Regions from separate parts of the Homo sapiens genome. Here region 2 is linked to region 1. Evidence: fine-mapped expression QTL. Tissue or cell type: nasal epithelium. Region 1 holds a variant in brackets; the other region holds the start of a gene. All regions are shown on one strand. Distances are from middle to middle.

Evidence for each region. PIP is the estimated chance that this variant, and not a neighbour inherited with it, causes the effect. A credible set is the group of variants that fine-mapping cannot tell apart.
Region 2: it holds the start of KCNK2, and the variant in region 1 is the best candidate, but not a certain one, in a credible set for the expression of KCNK2 in nasal epithelium (TOPMed, PIP 0.57).

What each region holds. Positions count from the first base shown.
Region 1 is chr1:214,781,064-214,786,444 of GRCh38, forward strand. No RefSeq gene overlaps it. Among named protein-coding and RNA genes, the nearest start is that of CENPF, 180 kb to the left of the region's middle. The variant G/A (reference allele first, on the strand shown) is at 3,104.
Region 2 is chr1:215,079,848-215,085,228 of GRCh38, forward strand. It overlaps KCNK2 (potassium two pore domain channel subfamily K member 2), which reads left to right and starts at 2,890. Exons shown (of 7, transcript NM_001017425.3): 1 at 2,890-3,584. The coding sequence starts at 3,539. LOC124904511 (a long non-coding RNA gene) reads right to left here and starts at 2,477. Exons shown (of 2, transcript XR_007066878.1): 1 at 2,243-2,477; 2 at 335-2,112. RefSeq lists an enhancer at 3,248-3,770.

The sequences.
Region 1 (5,381 bases):
TTCATCTGTAACTTCTTCAGTTACAGATGTGGGGAGGGGTGGGCGTTTCTGGCTAGGATGCAAGCCCTTTTCCCACAAAGGTGTCTAGTCTAGAGGGGATGAAGTGGCCATGCAGTCGGGGTTGAGTGGCCCTCTGAACCAGAAACTGGACAGTGACTCATTTCCATCTCTCTCCTTGGGGGACAAATATAGGGTCTAAGTACTGCATAACATTTTCCAGGGGTGGGTTCTTGCTGGGCCTGGTGGCTGTGGAGGTAGGTCTGGCAGATGGCAGACTCTTGAACCCAAAGAAAAACACCAAAATGGAGAAGATGATCTCTAGTCTGGGGCACCCTGAAGCTGAAATTTTTCCTATTGCAACCGTAATAGCTCAGTCGCTGAATGCTCACAACAAGTCAATATGCCGAGACACTGGGTTGCAGCAGAGAAAGAGGTTTAATCATATGGCTGCCAAAGGATGACATGGGAGAGAACCTCAAATCCAGCTTCCTGTAGAATTTGAGGCTGGAGTTTCTACGGGTTTTGGAGTGGGTCGAAGAGTAGAGATGGTTGATTGGTTGAAGAGTGCATTGCGAAGTCATGTGACTGGTTGATGAAGAAACTGATTTTTCATGCTAATTCTGTACTTCTGTGGGGGTCTTCAAACTGGTTGTGCCAGCTGTTGCACTGGAATTTGGGATCCGAAAAATATCTCCAGTGATAACCAGGACTTGAACTCAGCTCTGTACCAAGCAGACCTAATAGACATCTACAGAACTCTCCACCCCAAATCAACAGAATATACATTCTTCTCAGCACCACATCGCACTTATTCTAAAATTGACCATATAGTTGGAAGTTAAGCACTCCTCAGCAAATATAAAAGAACAGAAATCACAACAAACTGTCTCTCAGACCACAGTGGAATCAAATTAGAACACAGGATTAAGAAACTAACTCAAAATCGCACAACTACATGGAAACTGAACAACCTGCTCCTGAGTGACTACTGGGCAAATAATGAAATGAAGGCAGAAATAAAGATGGTCTTTGAAACCAATGAGAACAAAGACACAACATACCAGAATCTCTGGGACACATTTAAAGCAGTGTGTAGAGGGAAATTTATAGCACTAAATGCCCACAAGAGAAAGCAGGAAAGATCTAAAATCGACACCCTAACATCACAATTAAAAGAACTAGAGAAGCAAGAGCAAACACATTCAAAAGCTAGCAGAAGGCAAGAAATAACTAAGATCAGAGCAGAACTGAAGGAGAGATAGAGACACAAAAAACCCTTCAAAAAAATCAATGAATCCAGGAGCTGGTTTTTTGAAAAGATCAACAAAATTGATAGACTGCTAGCAAGATTAATAAAGAAGAAAAGAGAGAAGAATCAAATAGATGCAATAAAAAATGATATAGGGGATATCACCACTTATCCCACAGAAATACAAACTACCATCATAGAATACTATAAACATCTCTATGCAAATAAACTAGAAAATCTAGATGAAATGGATAAATTCATGGACGCATACACCCTCCCAAGACTAAACCAGGAAGAAGTTGAATCTCTGAATAGACCAGTAACAGGCTCTGAAATTGAAGCAATAATTAATAGCCTACCAACCAAAAAAAGTCCAGGACCAGACGGATTCACAGCCAAATTCTACCAGCGGTACAAAGAGGAGATGGTATCATTCCTTCTGAAACTATTCCAATCAAAAGAAATAGAGGGAATTCTCCCTAACTCATTTTATGAGGCCAGCATTGTCCTGATACCAAAGCCTGGCAGAGACACAACAAAAAGAGACAATTTTAGACCAATATCCCTGATGAACACTGATGCAAAAATCCTCAATAAAATACTGGCAAACTAAATCCAGCAGCACATCAAAAAGCTTATCCACCATGATCAACTCGGCTTCATCCCTGTGATGCAAGCAAGGCTGGTTCAATATACACAAATCAATAAACGTAATCCATCATATAAACAGAACCAAAGACAAAAACCACATGATTGTCTCAATAGATGCAGAAAAGGCCTTTGACAAAATTCAACAGCCCTTCATCTAAAAACTCTCAATAAACTAGGTATTGATGGAATGTATCTCAAAATAATAAGAGCTATTTATGACAAACCCACAGCCAATATCATACTGAATTGGCAAAAACTGGAAGCATTCCCTTTGAAAACTGGTACAAGACAAGGATGCCCTGTCTCACCACTCCTGTTCAACATAGTGTTGGAAGTTTTGGCCAGGGCAATCAGGCAAGAGAAAGAAATAAAGGGTATTCAATTAGGAAAAGAGGAAGTCAAATTGTCCCTGTTTGCAGATAACATGATTGTATATTTAGAAAACCCCATTGTCTGAGCCCAAAATCTCCTTAAGCTGATAACTTCAGCAAAGTGTCAGGATACAAAATCAATGTGCAAAAATCACAAGTGTTCCTATACACCAGTAACAGACAAACAGAGAGCCAAATCCTGAGTGAACTCCCATTTGCAATTGCTACAAAGAGAATAAAATACCTAGAAATACAACTTACAACAGCTGTGAAGGACCTCTTCAAGGAGAACTACAAACCACTGCTCAACGAAATAAAAGAGGATACAAACAAAGGGAAGAACATTCCATGCTCATGGATAGGAAGAATCAATATCGTGCAAGGGGCCATACTGCCCAAGGTAATTCATAGATTCAATGCCATTCCTAACAAGCTACCAATGACTTTCTTCACAGAACTGGAAAAAACTATTTTAAAGTTCATATGGAACCAAAAAAGAGCCCACATTGCCAAGACAATCCAAGCAAAATGAACAAAGCTGGAGGCATCATGCTACCTGACTTCAAACTATGCTACAAGGCTACAGTAACCAAAACAGCATGCATCTGGTACCAAAACAGATATATAGACCAATGGAACAGAACAGAGGCCTCAGAAATAACACCACACATCTGTAACTATCTGATCTTTCACAAACCTGACAAAAACAAGCAGGGGGAAAGGATTCCCTATTTTATAAATGGTGTTGGGAAAGCTGGCTAGCCATATGTAGAAAGCTGAAACTGGATCCCTTCCTTACAGTTTATACAAAAATTGATTCAAGATGGATTAA[G/A]GACTTAAATGTTAGACCTAAAACCATAGAAACCCTAGAAAAAAACCTGGGCAATACCATTCAGGACATAGGCATGGGCAAGGACTTCATGAGTAAAACACCAAAAGCAATGGCAACAAAGGCCAAAATAGACAAATGGGATCTAAACCAAAGATTAAACCAAAGAGCTTCTGCACAGCAAAAGAAACTACCATCAGAGTGAACAGGCAACCTACAGAATGGGAGAAAATTTTTGCACTCTGCCCATGCGACAAAGGACAAATATCCAGAATCTACAAAGAACTTAAACAGATTTACAAGAAAAATACAACCCTATCAAAAAGTGGGCAAAGGATATAAACAGACACTTCTCAAAAGAAGACATTTATGCAGCCAACAGACACATGAAAAAATGCTCATCATCACTGGTCATCAGAGAAATGCAAATCAAGTCCACAATGAGATACCATGTCATGCCAGTTAGAATGGCGATCACTGAAAAAGTCAGGAAACAACAGATGCTGGAGAGGATGTGGAGAAATAGGAACACTTTTACACTGTTAGTGGGAGTGTAAATTAGTTCAACCATTGTGGAAGACAGTGTGGTGATTCCACAAGGATCTGGAACCAGAAATGCCATTGGACCCAGTGATCCCATTACTGGATATATACCCAAAGGATTATGAATCATGCTACTATAAAGACACATACACACATATGTTTATTGCGGCACTATTCACAATAGCAAAGACTTGGAACCAATCCAAATGTCCATCACTGATAGACTGGAAATGTGGCACATATACACCATGGAATACTGTGCAGCCATAAAAACGGATGAGTTCATGTCCTTTGCAGGGACATGGATGAAGCTGGAAACCATCATTCTCAGCAAACTATTACAAGGACAGAAAACCAAACACCACATGTTCTCACTCATACATGGGAATTGAACAATCAGAACACTTGGACACAGGACAGGGAACATCATGCACTGGGGCCTGTTGGGGGGGTGAGGGCCTGGGGGAGGGATAGCATTAGGAGAAATACTTAATGTAAGTGATGAGTTGATGGGTGCAGCAAACCAACATGGCACATGTATACCTATGTAACAAACCTGCACGTTGTACACATGTACCCTAGAACTTAAATTAAAAAAAAATTAAACTCAAACTACAGGGCAGTAAATGTCACGTTAGCTGTTTAAGTAATTGCATTTAATGTCAAATTAAATGATTCTACTCAATTATTTGCATCAAAAAATATCTCCGGTGATCTTTAAAGAAAAGCCTTATGATTCTACTGTCAGAGATCCTATCTATAGCAACAGTTGGGATGCAAATGGTCAGGATCTAGTGCTAACTGACTTACAGTTCCAAAGAAGGGGGTCAAAGCACAGCCTGATTAATGCTTAATAACTAGATTTCTGTCCAGAATTCTAGTTAACCCTGTGAGGATGGCTTCACTATCTGCTTGAAAGAGGTCATGGCCCACCTTGGAAAAAGTGGCATAAAGAAGGGAACCAGATCCAAAGTGTGGTGACTTTTAGTCAGTCCACCCTGTTCTTATATTTTAAAAAATAGTATTTGAATGACCAGCTTTTTTTCATTTATCAGTATATTGTAATTTTTTTGTGCTAAAAATACTTTTCTACAACATAATGTTTAATGGATGTTCAGTATTCATCATGTAAAAATGTACCAGAATTTTCTTATCTTTTATTACTGAATGTTTTAGTGGTTTTCCAATTTTTTAATATTGTAAACAATACTACATCTAACATTCCCATGCACATGTCTGAAGCCATCTATCAGGCTGAGTTATTCTTTTTTTTTAAATTATACTTTAAGTTCTAGGGTGCATGTGCACAACGTGCAAGTTTGTTACATATGTATACATGTGCCGTGTTGGTTTGCTGCACCCATTAACTCGTCATTTACATTAGGCATTTCTCCTAATGTTATCCATTCTCCATCCTCCCACCCCACAACAGGCCCCAGTGGGTGATGTTCTCCTACCTGTGTCCAAGTGTTCTCGTTCAATTCCCACCTATGAGTGAGAGCATGCGGTGTTTGGTTTTCTGTCCTTGTAATAGTTTGCTAAGAATGATGGTTTCCAGCTTCATCCATGTCCCTACAAAGGACATGAAATTATCCTTTTTATGGCTGCATAGTATTCCATGGTGTATATGTGCCACATTTTCTTAATCCAGTCTATCATTGATGGACATTTGGGTTGGTTCCAAGTCTTTGCTATCATGAATAGTGCCACAATAGACATACTTGTGCATGTGTCTTTC
Region 2 (5,381 bases), 300 kb after region 1:
GTGGGAGGACTGGGTGGTTTCTTGATTCTTTCAAATTATTTGTGAGGCTGAGCATTTGGCTTGTTGGGATGATTCCTGTTAATGTTACAGTCTGAAATTTTATCTTTTTATCTTAACATCTCTGTAAGTTACATCACTTCTCCCCCAACCCCCAAGCACCCTACATGAATGTGGGGCCTAATAATGAAAATAATACAAAGGGGAATGTGGAGGACAACTGCTATGTATGAATTGATAGCAAAAAGCAGGGAAGATGGCAATCCAGCATTTGGGATTCATGATGAGACCTAAGTTCCATGAGTCTGGAAAAACAGAAGCGCTATGCAAGCATATATCAAAACATATTTAATTTATTAAACAGGCATATTCAAACTATTAATCTCCCAGTCTAGTAAGCATTAGCCAGTTTGACAGAGGACTAGTGCTGGGCAAGATGCGGTTAAATTTGCAGAAAACTCGGAGGGGGGAATGAAAAAGAATAATCGAATTGCGAACAAAATGGGAAAAATGAAAATAATATTCAAAAAAATTTGAGGAAATTTCATCTGGAGAACAAAGAGCCTATGAGACAGGGTAGAAAATGATTCAGAATATAGTGAATTCATCTCATTTCTCATGTATGTAGGGTATACCCTGGTTCCAAATACCTGGAGGGAGACCAGGTGAATATAAGAAAATGTCAGCTATTTAGTAGGAATAACGATTTCACTCAGATGTTTATCAAACACGTATTTAGCAGCAGATGCTAGTTACTGCAGATATTATGGTGAACAGAGAGATATGGTTTATGCCCTCACTGAGCATACAATCTAGTTTAAAGAAGCAAAACATCATGTGACAAGTATAAAGATAGATGAAAGACGAGTTGACCTGGGAAGCAAATAGTAAAACACCTGACTGGCCAGGATTCCAGGGAAATTTCTGGGCAGCATGGAGATTTGCAGGGTAACACCTGTGATGGTTAGTTTTATGTGTCAACTTGACTAGGCTACAGTGTTCAGTTATTTAATCAAACACGAATCTAAAATCTAAGTGTTGCTGTGAAGGTGTTTCATAAATGTGTTCAGCATCTACAGTAAGACTTCAAAACGAGATTGCTCTAGGTAATGCTGGTGGGCCTATATCACAAGCAATTGTGAGCCAAAAATTAGATTTCCTGGAAAAGGAGAAATTCTGCCTTAAGACTGAAGCATCGACTCTTGCTTGAGTTTCCAGCCTGCCAGAGCTGCCCTGTAGATTTCAGAGGGACCTTCCAGCCCCCATCATCCTGAGCCAATTCCTTAAAATAAATCTGTTACCCCACACACGTACACGCAAATGTGTGTGTGTGTGTGTGTGTGTGTGTGTGTACATATGTTCCATTTCTCTAGAGAACCTTACTGATAAAATACCTTAGTCATGTAAAGTTGGTGTGTGTGTGGTGTGTGCACTGAGGGAAGGTAACTGCCCAGGAAGACTTAGAATGAAAAAGATTTAGCCAGATCAGGAAGCACATTATAGGTGACCTAGAGACTTTGTAAGGATTGTGAGAGGATCAGATTCACATTTTAGAAAGGACATCTGATTGTATTACTTTTGAGCACATAAGTTGAGAAAAATGTGTTTGAATTCCAGCAGGAAGGATATTAGGAAGATTTTTTTTTAATAGGGGAAAGAGGTGCTGAATGTATTCTGGAATCTAGAAAAAATTGCATTTTTATCATTGACGGTAACAGTTTTGCAAAAGATTTACAAGCTTTTTTTCCCCTACAATTACGTCTATATTTTTCACTAAGAAGTTCTTGTAACTGGGAAAATACTCCAATCTGGCCGAGCAGCAGTTATGGAAGAAAAACTCTAGCAAACAGCAGTTGGGATGGGAGGGTGGAGGTCATCAGGGGATTCCCGCTGAGAAAGTGGGAAGGAAGAGAGTTTAGAAACGGATTGAAGTTCCACTACATCACGTGTGTTGTTAGAGAATTCGCCTATTACGACGACAGCAACGTCTGATCTCCTGGCTTTCTTCCCCTCCTTGGTGGGTTCCGTTCCGTCCCCCTGTCGCTGCGAGTTTGGCTGTCCCTACGCCGGGGTCTTGGAGTTTGGGCGGGGTCTGGTACCTGCCAAATACGGATCCTGATGGGGAGGAGGTCGGGGAGCGCTAAGTTCAGGCTGGAGTCTGAGTTCTCCCACCCTGCTGCTCCCACCCACCGCGCTTAGAAACCTATGTTTCCAGCAAAGGGGTCTTGCTCTGAGAGAACCTAACCGGGTTTTCTTCCATTCCCTTTGCATCTCTAGATGTCTTCGCCCTGGCTCCAGGTGCGTTCCCCATCCTTTTCGGTCCCGGACGTTCTGCAGATTATAGCGCCCAGCTCATGTCCAGCACCGCCGGAGGTGAAGTGGGGCGAGCTGGTGACTCCTTAACCCTTCCCGAAGGTGTAGACTGGAAGAAGCCAGGGTCTTCATTACCTCCCCTACTCCAGGGCTCTCAAGGCGCCAACGGGGACACTTCCCTGTACAGGTCTGGGGGGCCACGAGGGCGAGGAGGACGCCCTAGTGCAGGGGTCCAAGGACTCGCGTCCCAGAGCTTGGTCCCACACCCGGTCCCACACCCCGAACGCTGGTCGGGAAGGAGATAGGATGCAGCGCAGTGTGATGTGGATGCCAGACAGCGAGAGTGAGGATTTTGCGGGGTGGGGATGGGGGTTAGTGGAAGGGGCTGAGAGGGGAGGAGGCAGCAGGTGAGCCAAGGGGTTGTGCCCCCAGGAAGAGGGAAGAGAGGATCTTTAGAAGGGAGCATCTTGCAGGGGCGACGCAGGCAAGGGTAGGGCTAGGAGGAGGTGCGGGGAAGCAAGCCCTGGCGGTGAGACAGGAGGGGGAGGAGGCGAAGAGGAGGGAGTTCCGAAAGGAGGGAAACGAGCCGGCAAGGGGCGACAGGAGCGAGCCGGGAAGGGAGAGCAGCGGAGGGCTGCAGAGCTGCGGGCGCCCGGACCGTGCCACACACCCCCCGCGGGGCACGGAGGGCATTGCGGGGGGAGACACACAAAGACATGCGAAGAGGGGCTGAACGAGGCTCGCGCACAAAGACGCCGGGGCGCACGGCAGCTGGGGCTGCACCCACCGCCCCCGCGCCGCGCCGTGCCGGGGCCGGGCCAGCGAGCAGCCCGGGGCTGAGCGCGTGGCGGCGGCGGCGGCGGCGGCGGCGGCGGGCAGGCGCGGGACCCGGGTCGCCCGCGCTCTCCGGGTGACCCGGGCCCGGCAGCAGGCGCGCGCGGGGGCGGCGGCGCCCAAGCCCAACTTGGCCTCCGCCTCGCCCTCTGCCCAGCCCGCCGGTGTCCCCTCCTTCCCGCGATTTCGTTTCTTCTCACGCTCCCCCCCCCGCCCCCTCCCGCGTCCAGCCCCGCTCTCCCCACCTTGTAAAACAAAGCCGGGGAAAATGCCTGCCCGTGCAGCTCGGAGCGCGCAGCCCGTCTCTGAATAAGAAGTGAGTACAATGGCGTGTTTGTAAAAAAAAGCTTCAAGTCCGTCTTTTTCAAAAAACATTTTGAATGCTGCATGCCTCATGCTTCCCAGCGCCTCGCGGGAGAGACCCGGCTATAGAGCAGGAGGTGAGACCCCCCCTCCGGTACCCCCACCCCTCTGGCCGCACGCTCTCCTGCCCCAGCCTTTTCTGGGAGGACTGCAAATGCCCCCTCTCAGCAAGCGGCCGTTTCCCATCTTCGCTTCGCGTCCAAAGTGTTGGGTCATAATCTGGATTTGGAGGCAAACCCTTGCCAGATCCTCTCCACGCCGCTTCTCCCCCCTCTCCCGCCGGTGCCCGGGGTTTTTGCATCTGCCTGAGGTATGGGTTTGGAACACCTTGGGGGAGTTTCCCATGGAGAAGGAGGGTCAGCCCTTGGGAGTAGCCGGCAGGCAGGACTCATGGTGACCCCGGTCACACTTGTTGCCCATTGCCTGGTGGGACAGGCAGTGGTGCTGAAAAAAGCTTGCTTCCGCTGCTATTCAGTGGTCAGTCGCCGCTGGAGCGAAGACATATCTGGGTGAGAACAGAAGACCGGGATTAACAGAAGACTGTGATGAGCTGGGGGAGGGGAGTGGGTAGTGACGGTGCTGAGTGTGTGTGGAAGGGGCAGCTTCTCTCCCTGATCATACATCAAATGGCGTGGAGGTGGAAACCAAGAGGTTCCCTGTATTAAAGATAAAAGTCTGCTTTTATTTTTTAAAAATATTATTTTGGTATTTCATCAGTTTCTGTCCATTCTGTCTGCCAAATGTACATTACATATATTTCTGCTAATTAAAAAATAAGGCAACAGCTTAAAAGAATTAAACTCCTTCTGGAAATGTATTAGGTTAATGCACACACACACACACACACACACACACACACACACACTCTTAAAAATACCTGCCCCTTTCCCCAAAAAGCATATAATGGCCATGTGGCAATGTCTTAATGGAATTTCAGATTGGGATTTGGTGCCATCAAGGTAAACAGTCTTAGTGCTTTCTGGTTCTGCAGAGTGTAAACCACTGATGTGAAAAATCACAAATAGGAGAGCACAGAGATCTGAGGAGGAGAGACTTGGAAATCTTCATTTAGAGAGATAATTGTGGAACTTCTATGTGATTTTTTTGTTGTTTTTGTTCCAAAGATGGCTAAATTTTAAATTATGACTTTTGTTTTTCACTCAGACTCACTAAGCAGCTAGGAGGTTGTGGGGAGTCTGCAGATTATAGTGATTTTAGCTATTATCAGCACTTCCATTTTAACAGTTTTTTTTAATTATAGCATTAAACACATGCCCAGTGCTAATTTTGAGTGAAGGTGTCTTTATAAATATTTTAAAGGTATCTACTAGCTTGTGGCTTTATTTGGAACAGGTGAATGTATCAGGAGAGAAACATGTGCATTCCTCTGTGTAGTAGGTTGAACCTTAGGAAATTGCTGTAATAAGCTATATGTACATGGAATCTCCACTTGGAGCCATGGGTACAGAAACCTCATCACAGCTCTAATTTCATCTCTTCCAAATCAGATCCATTTGGAGCTTTGCTGACTGAGGATCCTGCCTTCTGCCATCATTTTACAACACTACTTAGGTCTAGTGTTTTAAATATCTTTGTTTGCAAAGCTTCTTTTTGATGGGGAATTACAGATGTATTTTATGAATTAAAACTATGGTAGCCTACAATTAACTCACAGTGTTAGGTAAGAGGGCAGGGTAGGTAGCCATGTGAAAACTGGCATTTTTTATTAGCTTCTCATACTGAAGTAATTTCAGATGCCTGTAGGGTATTTGAGTGCAATTCCATGGAGATTTCTTATATACTTACCTGAAAGTGTGTTTTAGATAAGATTATCATTTTATAATCTATATTATATACACGATAGCAAGTTTACT